Regions from separate parts of the Homo sapiens genome. Here region 1 is linked to region 2. The links come from fine-mapping of genetic effects on gene expression. A gene starts in region 2. The other region holds a variant in brackets. All regions are shown on one strand. Distances are between the middles of the regions. Region 1 overlaps SYT3 (synaptotagmin 3). Region 2 holds the start of C19orf81 (chromosome 19 open reading frame 81).

The links. PIP is the estimated chance that this variant, and not a neighbour inherited with it, causes the effect. A credible set is the group of variants that fine-mapping cannot tell apart.
Region 1: its variant is the best candidate, but not a certain one, in a credible set for the expression of C19orf81 in prostate (GTEx, PIP 0.69).

The regions. Positions count from the first base shown.
Region 1 is chr19:50,625,120-50,630,484 of GRCh38, forward strand. SYT3 (synaptotagmin 3) reads right to left here. Exons shown (of 11, transcript NM_001160329.2): 5 at 4,665-5,052; 6 at 4,175-4,393; 7 at 778-898; 8 at 274-445; 9 at 43-175. Among named protein-coding and RNA genes, the nearest start is that of SYT3, 12 kb to the right of the region's middle. The variant G/A (reference allele first, on the strand shown) is at 2,533.
Region 2 is chr19:50,646,355-50,651,719 of GRCh38, forward strand. It overlaps C19orf81 (chromosome 19 open reading frame 81), which reads left to right and starts at 3,091. Exons shown (of 5, transcript NM_001195076.2): 1 at 3,091-3,157. The coding sequence starts at 3,091. It also overlaps a transcript of SYT3 not described here. RefSeq lists enhancers at 58-352, 1,975-2,024.

The sequences.
Region 1 (5,365 bases), 21 kb before region 2:
GCACGGGTGCTTGTCAGGGGTCGGTGTGGGACCCCTACTCACCTCCACTAGCTGATGCCAGTGCTCCACGGGCTTGCGGGGATTGGCCAGCATCTCTGCCCAGTGCTCGCGGCCGTGCGGGTCGGCAGCGTCGGGGCCCACACGGCACACGCCGATCACCTCGTTGTGCCCGATGCTGGGGGTTGGGGTCAGTGAGGACCGTGGAGGGTGGTGGGAGGGCCTGTCCCCACCCCAGCCCTCCTGCCTGACCCCCGCCCGGGCCGCGCCCCTCACCAGTCGTAGTCTACCACGGCGATGCTGAGCCCCACGTTCTCCACGCTCTCGGGGGCCACGTCGAACACCAGCGCCTCATTATAGGTGGGGTTCAGCGTGTTCTTCTTGATGGAGGTTTTCCGCTTCTTCAGACGCCGCCCCTCGCTGATCAGGGAGGCCTTCACGTAGGGGTCTGGGAACAGCAATGAAGTAAGGAACAGAGACTCACTCCCTCAGACCTAGGGGTCCAGGACCCCAGGCCCCGAGCCCCTCCTCCCTCAGACCCAGAGGTCCGGGGCCCCAGGCCCCCAGTCCCTCCTTCCTCAGGCCCAAGAGTCCAGACCCCAGGTCCTCCTCTCTCCGACCCAGGAGTCCAGGCCCCTGGCCCCTCCTCCCTCAGACCCAGGAGTCCAGATCCCCAGCTCCTCCTCCCTCAGACCCAGGAGTCCAGGCCCCTGGCCCCTCCTCCCTCAGACCCAGGAGTCCAGGCCCCCAGCCCTCCTCCCTCAGACCCAGGACCCTCACCTGAGAAGCCAGTGAGGTCCATCGCTTTGAGGTTAGAGGCTTTGATGATGGTCACGGTGAGGCGCCCGGCCGTGGGGAGGTAGCAGAGTGAGAAGTTGAGCTCCCCAAGATCTGCTTTTTCCTGCAGTTGGGGAAAAGGTCAGCGATATCTTGCCTCAGCCCCTCTTCAACTCTCCCTGATTTTCTCTCCGGTCGGAGCCTCCTGCTTTACACCCTGACATCCAGGGCTCAGGCTTCCCATCCACTTAGCAATCTGACTCTTGGGACAAGGCCCAGTAATTCCCTGGCCACAGCTGCCCATGACCATCAAAGCTTATTTGTTCTGCAGGAAAGATTGGAAGAAGCATGAGTGAGGGGAGAGAGAGAGGAGGGGAGAGACAGAGAAGGTGAGAGAGAGAGAAAACACAAAGAGAAATAGACTGAGACAGAAGCCAAAACACGGAGGGATACAGCTGGAAAGACAGACCCACAGGCAAAGTTCTCAAGTCAGAGGGACAGAGGCCCAGAGACAGACACAGAGAGAGACCCAGAGAGAGGGAGACAGAGACCCAGAAAGAGAGGGAGACAGAGACCCAGAGAGAGAGGGGGACAGAGGCCCAGAGAGAGAGGGGGGGGGACAGAGACCCAGAGAGGAGGACAGAGACCCAGAGAGAGAGGAGGACAGAAGCCCAGAGAGAGAGGAGGACAGAGGCCCAGAAAGAGAGGGGGACAGAGACCCAGAGAGAGGAGGACAGACCCAGAGAGAGAAAGGGGCAGAGACCCAGACAGAGAGGGGGACAGAGACCCAGAGACAGAGAGATAGAGACCCAGAGAGAGACAGAAGCCCAGAGACAGGGGGTACAGAGACCCAGAGAGAGAAAGAGAGAGAGATATATATAGAGAGAGACTCAGAGAGAGACAGAGGCCCAGAGAGAGAGAGGGACAGAGACAGTGGGTTGGGGGTGCATAAAGACCCAGAGAGAGTGATAGTTACCTAGAATTAGAGTGGAGGGGCAGAGACCAGAGAGCGAGAGAGAAACCTAGACTCAGATACCCTACTCCCTGCACCAAGAGAAAGAGAGAGAGAGAGAGAGAGGCTGACTCAGACAGAGTGGGACAAAGACCAAGCAGACACACACACATAAACCAGCCTGAGAGAGGGCAGGAGATTCATCAACCTCCACCGAAGTTTCCAGGACTGCCCCCAACCCTGACACACAGGCTGGAGCCACGCTGGAGCTAGCTGGGAGCTTTGACCAACCTGGCCTAGCCCTGCGGCCTCCCAACTGTGCCCAGGACTCCCTACTCATTCCCCTCAGGGCATCTGCCCAGGCTGTCCCTCTGCCAGAACACTCTTCCCTCTATCTCTCCTTGGCCTTTGAGCCTCCCCTCGTTCCACAAGCTCCCAGATCCCCCACAGCCCTGCAGAGGCTCCTCCTGTGCCTCCCCATAACCCTGGCCCCTGACACAAGGCCCGACCATCTAGACCTGGAGCTGCCGAGGGCTGCCTGGGGTCCCCAGGCCCTGCTCCTGAAAAAAACAGTGGTTGAAGAAATGAATGAAGGCTGGGTGCAGTGGCTGATGCCTGTAATCCCAGCACTTTGGGAGGCTGAGGTGGGCGGTTAACCTGAGCTCAGGAGTTCGAGACCAGCCTGGCCAGCATGGCGAAACCCTGTCTCTACTAAAAATACAAAAATTAGCCGGGCATGGTGGCAGGTGCCTGTAATCCCAGCTACTTGGGTGACTGAAGCATGAGAATCACAATCACTTGAACCC[G/A]GGAGGTGGAGGTTGCAGTGAGCTGAGATTGCGCCACTGTACTCCAGCCTGGGTGACAGAGAGAGACTCTGTCTCAAAAAAAAAAAAAAAAAAATGAGAGAGAGAGAATGTATGAATCAATGGAATGAGTGAGGAAAACCTCAAGTGATGATGATGGAGAGAGAAAATGAGAAGGGTGAGCACAAGAATTAGGCCAGCATGGATACAGAGAGAAGGCCCTGGCATGGGGCTGCCATGGGTGATGACTGGGAGTAGGAGCTGGTGGAATACACAGGGGCCCTGGGACCTTGGAACTGGGCACTTCAATCTCAAAGGCTGGGCTTGGGGGCCAAGCAGGCAGGCTGGGGAGGGCCCCATGAAGAAGCCTACCCAAAGAGCTACCCAAAAAGCCTACCTGGCACCCAGCTCAACTGGACATCTGTCATTGAACAGATGGGGAAACTGAGGCTCAGAAAAGGAAAGAACCTTGAGGAGGTCTAGTCCTCTCCTGATATGAAGGCCGCCCTCCCCACAACACACACACAGCTACCCCAGATTGGCAGAGAACTGGAATGTTGGATAATCCACAAATTAGGTTGGAGCGGGGGCGCTGTAGAGTTGAGGATCTGAGATTTGGTGGGGCAGAAGAGCTCAGGACACACACACAAGAAGTACCTAAGAATGGGGCTGGGGAGGGATTGGAGGTACAGGGAGAATGAGATACCAGAGGGCAGGGGTCGCAAGGAATAAGGAAGAAGCCATTGGGCCCTATAATCTGGATGCTGGGAGAACTGAGGAGTGTCTGCATATTGGGGATCCCAGGATGGCTGAGGCCTGGGGGATCAAGCTATCAGCATTCGGGCAGGGACCATGAAAAAACAGAGGGTCAGAATATGAAAGAGTTCCAATGTCAGGGGTTGGGAAAATTCAGAAGTTCAGAGATTAGAGAGGGATTGGGGCTTTCAGAAGTTCAGAGATTAGAGAGGGACTGGGGCTTCCAGAAGTCCAGTCATTGGAAAGTCAGGAAGTTAGGAAGGTAAGAAGTCTGGGGTGAGAGGGGAGAAGTCATGGGGTTGAGGCAGGAAGGCATCCTATGGCAAAGCGGGTGAGAGGTTGGAAAATCGGATCCAGACCTGATGCTAACATTTGGCGATGTTGAGGAGAGGAATGGTGTCCACTGTATCATTATCTGTTCTTTTTTTTTTTTTTTTGAGACGGAGTTTCGCTCTTGTTGCCTACGCTGGAGTGCAATGGCATGATCTCTGCTCACCACAACCTCCACTTCCTGGTGCAAGCGATTCTCCTGCCTCATCCTCCTAAGTAGCTGGGATTACAGGCATGTGCCACCATGCCCGGCTAATTTTTGTATTTTTAGTAGAGATGGGGTTTCTCCATGTTGGCCAGGCTGGTCTCGAACTCCCAACCTCAAGTGATCTGCCCACCTGGCCTCCCAAAGTGCTGGGATTATAGGCATGAGCTACCGCGCCCGGCTCATTCTCTATTCTTGCCTGTAAGTTTGCAGTCTTCCCCAGTGTGATACATTTTAACAGAAAAATGTGGGGACAAGAAGTGAGGAAGTTATGAACTCTGAGGGCAGGGGGCTTGCAACCCGGGGGGTCTCAGGGCCCTGGGAAGGGGAAGGTCAGGGGAGAGGGCCACTGACCGAGCCGCCCTCCACGATGTCCCTCCAGAGCGGGCGGTCAGGGGGCTGCTCGGCCAGCTCCAGGAGGTTGTCCAGCACCACCTGGCCGATGAGGTCGTGCCGCGAGAAGCGGTCAAAGTCATAGACGCTGAAGTGCAGTTTGCGTTGGGCCAGCTCGGCCAGGGGCACCGAGAATTGAAACGTCTCATTGAAGACGGGGTTCAGGGTCTTCCTGTGCACCTGGTGGTGGTGGGCGACAGGAGACAGACACCGTGCCCATAAGCCCCTCCTCCACAGGATCCAGGAGTCCAGCCCCCAGCCCCTCCTCCCTCAGACCCAGGAGTCCAGGCCCCCAGCCCCTCCTCCCTCAGACCCGGGAGTCCAGGCCCCCAGCCCCTCCTCCCTCAGACCCGGGAGTCCAGGCCCCCAGCCCCTCCTCCCTCAGACCCGGGAGTCCAGAGCCCTAGCTCCCTCTCTGTGGGAACCCGGTGTCCAGCCCGCTGCTCCGGACCTTGGTCTGAAACTTTTTCTTGCGGTCAGGCAGCAGGTAGATCTTGACGTAGGGGTCTGAGAAGCCGTTGGAGTCCTTGGCAGGGAGGTCCAGGGCCTGCAGGATCCTCACCACCAGCTGGTCCGAGCCATAGAGGTACCGCAGGGCGAAGCTGATACGGCCACAGGGTGCCCCTGTGCCTGCCTCTCCAGAGCCTGGGCCCCCACCGCTCCGCCGGCCACCAGGGCCAGTCCCCTGGTACAGCTCTGGCTTAATCTGCCCAATGAGTTTGGCTTTTTCCTCGCCTCCAGGCAGGGGTAAGGGCAGGGCAGGTGGCCGCTCCTCACTGCTGGGGTCCGGCTGGGAGGTCAGAGTCTGCTGGGTGAGGGGTCGGGGCAGGGCTGGGTACCTGTAGGGGGTTGGGGGGAGACCAAGGTGAGGTCAGTGGCTCTGATCTTCGACTGCATGCAGAGACCTGGGAGACTCCTCCCTGCCTTTCCCCCCATCCCCCAGCCAGGTGGCCACAAGTCCCCTCCTTTGCTCACTGTGTGAGCTTGAGGAAGCCACTGTGCTCTCTGAGCCTCAGATTCCCCATTGGTATCTGGGGGGCATTCCTTCTCTCCCTCCCTCCCTCCCTCCCTCCCTTCTTTCCTTCCTTCCTTCTTTCCTTTTCTTTTGAGACGAAGTTTTGCTCTTGTCACCCAGGCTGGAGTGCAAAGGCG
Region 2 (5,365 bases):
CTTCAACTTATGTTGGCTCGTGAAGACCAGGAGGGACAGGGCAGATGGGGTTAGGGGGCTACTGAGTGTGGGTCACAGAAATAGAGGGAAATAATCATGTATTCATTCAACTCATGTGTCCTGAACTTCCCAGAAGCCTGGCCCTTGTGGCGTGATGCCAGAGAGCCAGAGATGAGTCAGGAAACAAATTTCTGAGCAAGACAGATGGGGCGGAGGGCAGTGTTCAGAGGTCTGGAGAAGGAGCAGATAAAAAAACAGTCGGAGGGAGGAGACAGAAAACACAACTGGTAGGAGGATGAGTCAGAGAGGGCTTCCTGGAGGAGAGGGCACTTGAGCTTCTTATTAAAAGATGAGGGCATTTGGGGACATGGGGAAAGGTTGGAAGAGCATTCCAGGCAGAAGACACAGCATATGGAAAGAGTGGAGACAGAAATAAGGTGGGATGTGTGGGAGGGATTATTTATTTATTTATTTATTTATTTATTATTTTGTTTGAGACAGAGTCTTGCTTTGTCGCCCAGGCTGGAGTGCAGTGGCGCGATCTCGGCTCACTGCAAGCTCTGCTTCCCGGGCTCACGCCATTCTCCTGCCTCAGCCTCCCAAGTAGCTGGGACTACAGGTGCCCGCCACCACACCCGGCTAATTTTTTGTATTTTCAGTAGAGACGGGGTTTCACCGTGTTAGCCAGGATGGTCTTGATCTCCTGACCTCGTGATCCGCCCGTCTCGGCCTCCCAAACTGCTGGGATTACAGGTGTGAGCCACCGCGCCTGGCTGCGGGAGGGATTATTTATATAAAATAATTAATAAAGGGTAGGTGGAGAATGTTTGGAGGGGTGAGGTTGGGAGAGGGAGGTGAGGTTAGATCATGCAGCTCTTTCAGTCCAGGTGAGGGGCTGAAAGTTTGTCTAAGGCACTGGGGAGCCCTGGGAGGGCCGTGAGCAGGGCAGGGGCAGGTCAGTTCCGGGCACAGAAAGACCACTCTGGAGCCTCACTTGTGGGGAGAGGAATGAGGGCGAGAGAATGGAGGATGGGGCGGCCAGGAGGCTGGGCCAGGTGTGGTGGCTCACACCTGTAATCCCAGCACTTTGGGAGGCTGAGGTGGGAGGATTGCTTGAGCCCCAGAGTTTGAGACCAGCTTGGGCAACACGGTGAGACTCCATCTTAAAAAAAATAAATAGCTGGGCGTAGTGGTGTGGGCCTGTGGTCCCCATTACTCGGGAGACTGAGGTGGGAGGATTGCTTGAGCCTGGGAGGTCAAGGCTGTTATACCGCTGCACTCCAGCCTGGGGGACACAGTGAGACCCTGTCTCAAAAACAAACAAACAAAAAAGGAGGCTGGGGCAAGGGTCCCAGCAGGAGAGGACGAGGTCTGAGTGGCTGCTAGAGCTATGGGAGTAGAGAGGAGAGGAAGGAGAGGCAGAAGGAATAGAACTTGGAGACAGATAGGCTGTGAGGGTCAGGTGTGCCTGTGGTCAAGGCAATCATGTCCTCCATCCCGCTGAGATAAAATTGCCAGCTGGAAATGGAAGACAGCTTGATGGGAGAGAAGCAGATGTGAAGATGCCAGGAGGGGGTCAGGGCCCCCAGAACTGAGTAAGACTATTTCAATCTGGACTGTTTTAATTGCTAATAACGGAAACGCAAATCAAATTGACCTAAGCATAAAAGGAAGTTTATTGATTGGATGAGGGCTTCAGGCATTGCTGGATCCAGGTGTTCCAATCATCTCCAGGAATCCAACTGTCTGTATCTTTGGGCTATGCTTCCCTCGTGTTGTCTTTGCTCTCAGGCAAGTTATCTCCCTGCATGGTGATGTGGTAGCACCGAGAGCTCCAACCCTGGCTCTGACCAGCCCCAAAACCACAGGGGAAAAACCCTGTTTTCTAACAGGTCCAGCAAAAGTCCAAAGGTTGACTTTGTAGCCTAGATTGATTCTTAAGCTCGCCACTGAACAAATCACTGAGGAAATCAAGGTGCCACCACCTAGAACGAATACTTAGTAAGCAGGAACAACAGACAGTCCAGAGACCATCTGGATGTGGAGAAAGAGGAAGAGAAAGAGATACAAGTAACAGAGACAAAGACTGCAAGGACAGACAAAACAAATAAGCGAAGGTCCAGCTTCCTCTCCCACAATTCCTGCAGAGAGCTCTGCAGACCCAGAGAAAGGGATGCTGAACAGGCACCTACACGGCTAGACCCCTTCTCTCTAGCACGAGAGGCCCCGTGAGACCCCAGACCCAGAAGTCCAGGCCCCCATCCTCTCCTCCCTCAGACCCAGGAGTCCAGACCCCAGGCCCTCCTCCCTCAGACCCAGGAATCCAGGCCCCCACCCCTCCCCCTCCCTCTGGAGGCACCATGGCAACCAGGCCCCCTGCCCACCATCCCCTCCCCACTAGAGAACCCACTTTCGTTGGAATCTCGCCTGTTTCTAACCAGTTCCTGGCTGGGGCAGGGATGAGCAGAGGGCAAGTGGGAACAGAAAGGGGATGACAGAGGGGAGGGGGCCTCAAGGGGGCAGTGGAGGCAGCTAGGAGAGGATAGAGATGGGGCAAGGAGACTGGTGAGAGGTGGGAAGACAGAGAGAGGGTGACGGGGTTAGGGAGAGGCAGAAAACGATGAAGACAAGGAGGGACGGGGGCCTGGGGAGATGCTGGGGAAACTGATGGAGACTGAAGAGATGGAGCCCAGGAGAGAAGGAGGGAGGAGGAGGGCAGAGAAATCAAGCAAAAGAGTGGTGGAGACGTGGGGACAGAGGGGAGGAGGCAGGGGGGCAGAGAGATGGGGAGAGAATGAGGAAGGGAGGTGGAGAGAGAGGGGTGGGGAAAGGGACTCTAGGAGACAGAGAGAGATAGGAGGAAAAACAGGGAAATGGGAAAGAAGGGATTGGGGCACACAGGGAGTCCCTGAGGTCAGGGGAACCCAGATCTCCACATGGTCTCAGCCTTCCAGTTCCTCTGTAATTCTACCCCGGGGCTTCAAAGAGGAGGTAGAGGAGGCAGCGGTGGGGAGAAGGAGCTGGGGTGGGTGGCCCAGGCAGAGCCTCTCTTGCCACCTTCCTGAGACATCCCTCACCCACCTTCCCAGGATGCAGCCAGAGGTGGAGCCCGTGTGCTTCCCTGCCATGGGCAGCCCCACCATGCACAGGAAGGCAGGTACTGAGCTGTGTCTTTGGGGGAAGGGGTGGACTTCCTCCATCCAGGCAGTGCGTAGTAGCCCGGGCTCACAGTGTGGCCTTAAGCGAGTCACTGGCACTCCAAAGTGAAAGCCATCCCTAGCATTCCTGGATTCACCAGATTCCTGGAGAGCGGCCCCCTTGGACCTCAAACTACATTTCCCATGAGCCTCTGCAGTTCCTTGGCCAATGCCCTGGACTCAGAACTACATTTCCCATGAGCCTCTGGGGCCTAAGCAACACCTCTGAGGCCATTCTTCTCCTAGGTAACCTCACTGTCTTGTCTCCCACCCTGAGCTCAGCATCTTCCCCCAAAGCTGCTCTCCTCCTTCCTGGTTTCCATTTTCAAATGGCCCCACCGCCAACCCAGTCACTGGTGCCATCCTTCCACCTCCCACAATTCCCTCCCACAGCCCATCAGGCCCTATCTTCCTGCCCTCTGACTCTCCCTTCCCCATTCCTTCCTCTCTGTCCCCGCAGCCCTGTCCCAGGTCTCATCCTCTTCCATGTGGACCCTCTCCTCACCTCCTCCCTGGTCCCCAGTTTCTCTCCTCCTACCTATCCCTCCATGGCTCCAGAGAGGTCTCTCTGACTTCCTGCAGTGATCCTGGCTGTCCCTTGCTCATAACACTTCCTAGCTTCCTGTCACCTCTAGGACAGAGACCCAAAGCTCCAGCCTGGCTTTTGAGGCCCTGTGTGGTCTGACCCCTGCTGACAACTTCAGGCTCCTAGCCCAGCACTTCCTGCTAGCACTCTGTGCTGTAGCACAGCTCATGCAGTTACACTCATTCAACATTTATGGAGTAGTATCTCAGTGAGGATGCATGTAACTGCAGGTAATAGAAAACCAAACTCAGGACTGGGTGTGGTGGCTCACGCCTATAATCCCAGCACTTTGGAGGCCGAGGTGAGTGGATCACCTGAGGTCAGGAGTTCAAGGCCAGCCAGCCTGGCCAACATGGTGAAACCCCATCTCTAAAAATACAAAAATTAGCCAGGTGTGGTGCCGGGTGCCTGTAATCCCAGTTACTAGGGAGGCTGAGGCAGGAGAATCGCTTGAACCCAGGAGGCAGAGGCTGCAGCGAGCCAAGATTGTGCCACTGCACTCCAGCCTGGGTGATGGAGGGAGACTCTGTCTCAAAAAACAAAACAAACAAACAAACAAACAAAAACACCCAAAACCAAAACTCACTGCAGCCTTGAGCTCCTGGCTCAAGTGATCCTCCCACCTCAGCCTTCGAGGCCGAACAAATGCCCTGATGGCAAAACAGGCGTTGTTTCTCTGCCTTTAGGTCTCTTTTAGTGCTTTTGAAGGCATCTTTCTTTTGGAGACCCCACAATGCACCATCTCTAGCCTAGACTGAGGCACCCACGTGACATGTAATTTATATGTAGCTCCAGAAAAGTCAAGTGGAGTTGAGTCGACCAGTTGGCTAGTTTTGTTGATCGACGTTTGTTCATTTCGATTTTGCTGTTTTCTTTGCAGCGTTGTGGAACCAATCACATTTTTTAGTTGATCAGGTTGCAAACTTCAGCATAGGCCATTAGAAAGCCCCTGGGTCCCAAGCATTTTGCCTGTAGTGCCTAATGGATGAAACGGCCTGGCTTGTTCTCATGCTGGGAGAGGAGACGTGAAACACGCCATCTCACAGATCATTCATAGCCTCCAATGGCAATAAGCGCTCTTTAGTCTTGGGGCTCAAGGGAATTCTGGGAAGTTCTTGCAGGTGACTCTCTTCTCTTTTGCTCAAAAACCTTGGCCCATGCTAGGCCCTTCATGGGAAACATCCTTCTCTCTGTCACCTCTTTATTTGGTAAATACCTTCTTATTCTTTAGGTCTCACTGTGGACACCTCCTCTAGAGAGCCTTCCCTGATTGCCCCTAGACCGGGAGACTGGGCTTTCCCTCCACCTTGTAACACTTTCATTGAAACACACATTGCCCTTTATCTGAGAGTTCTGAAAGGGCAGAGGTGTGTCTCATTCATCTCTTGGTCCCCAGCATCCTCCAAGGCACACAGGGGCCCTCTGAGATGCCTGTTAAAAAAATTTAACCAGCTACTTGGGAGGCTGAGACAGGAAGATCCCTTAAGCCCAGGAGTTCCTGGCTGCAGTGAGCTATGACTGCACCATGACCCTCCAACCTGGGCAACACAGTGAGACTCTGTCACCAAAGGAAAAAAAAAAA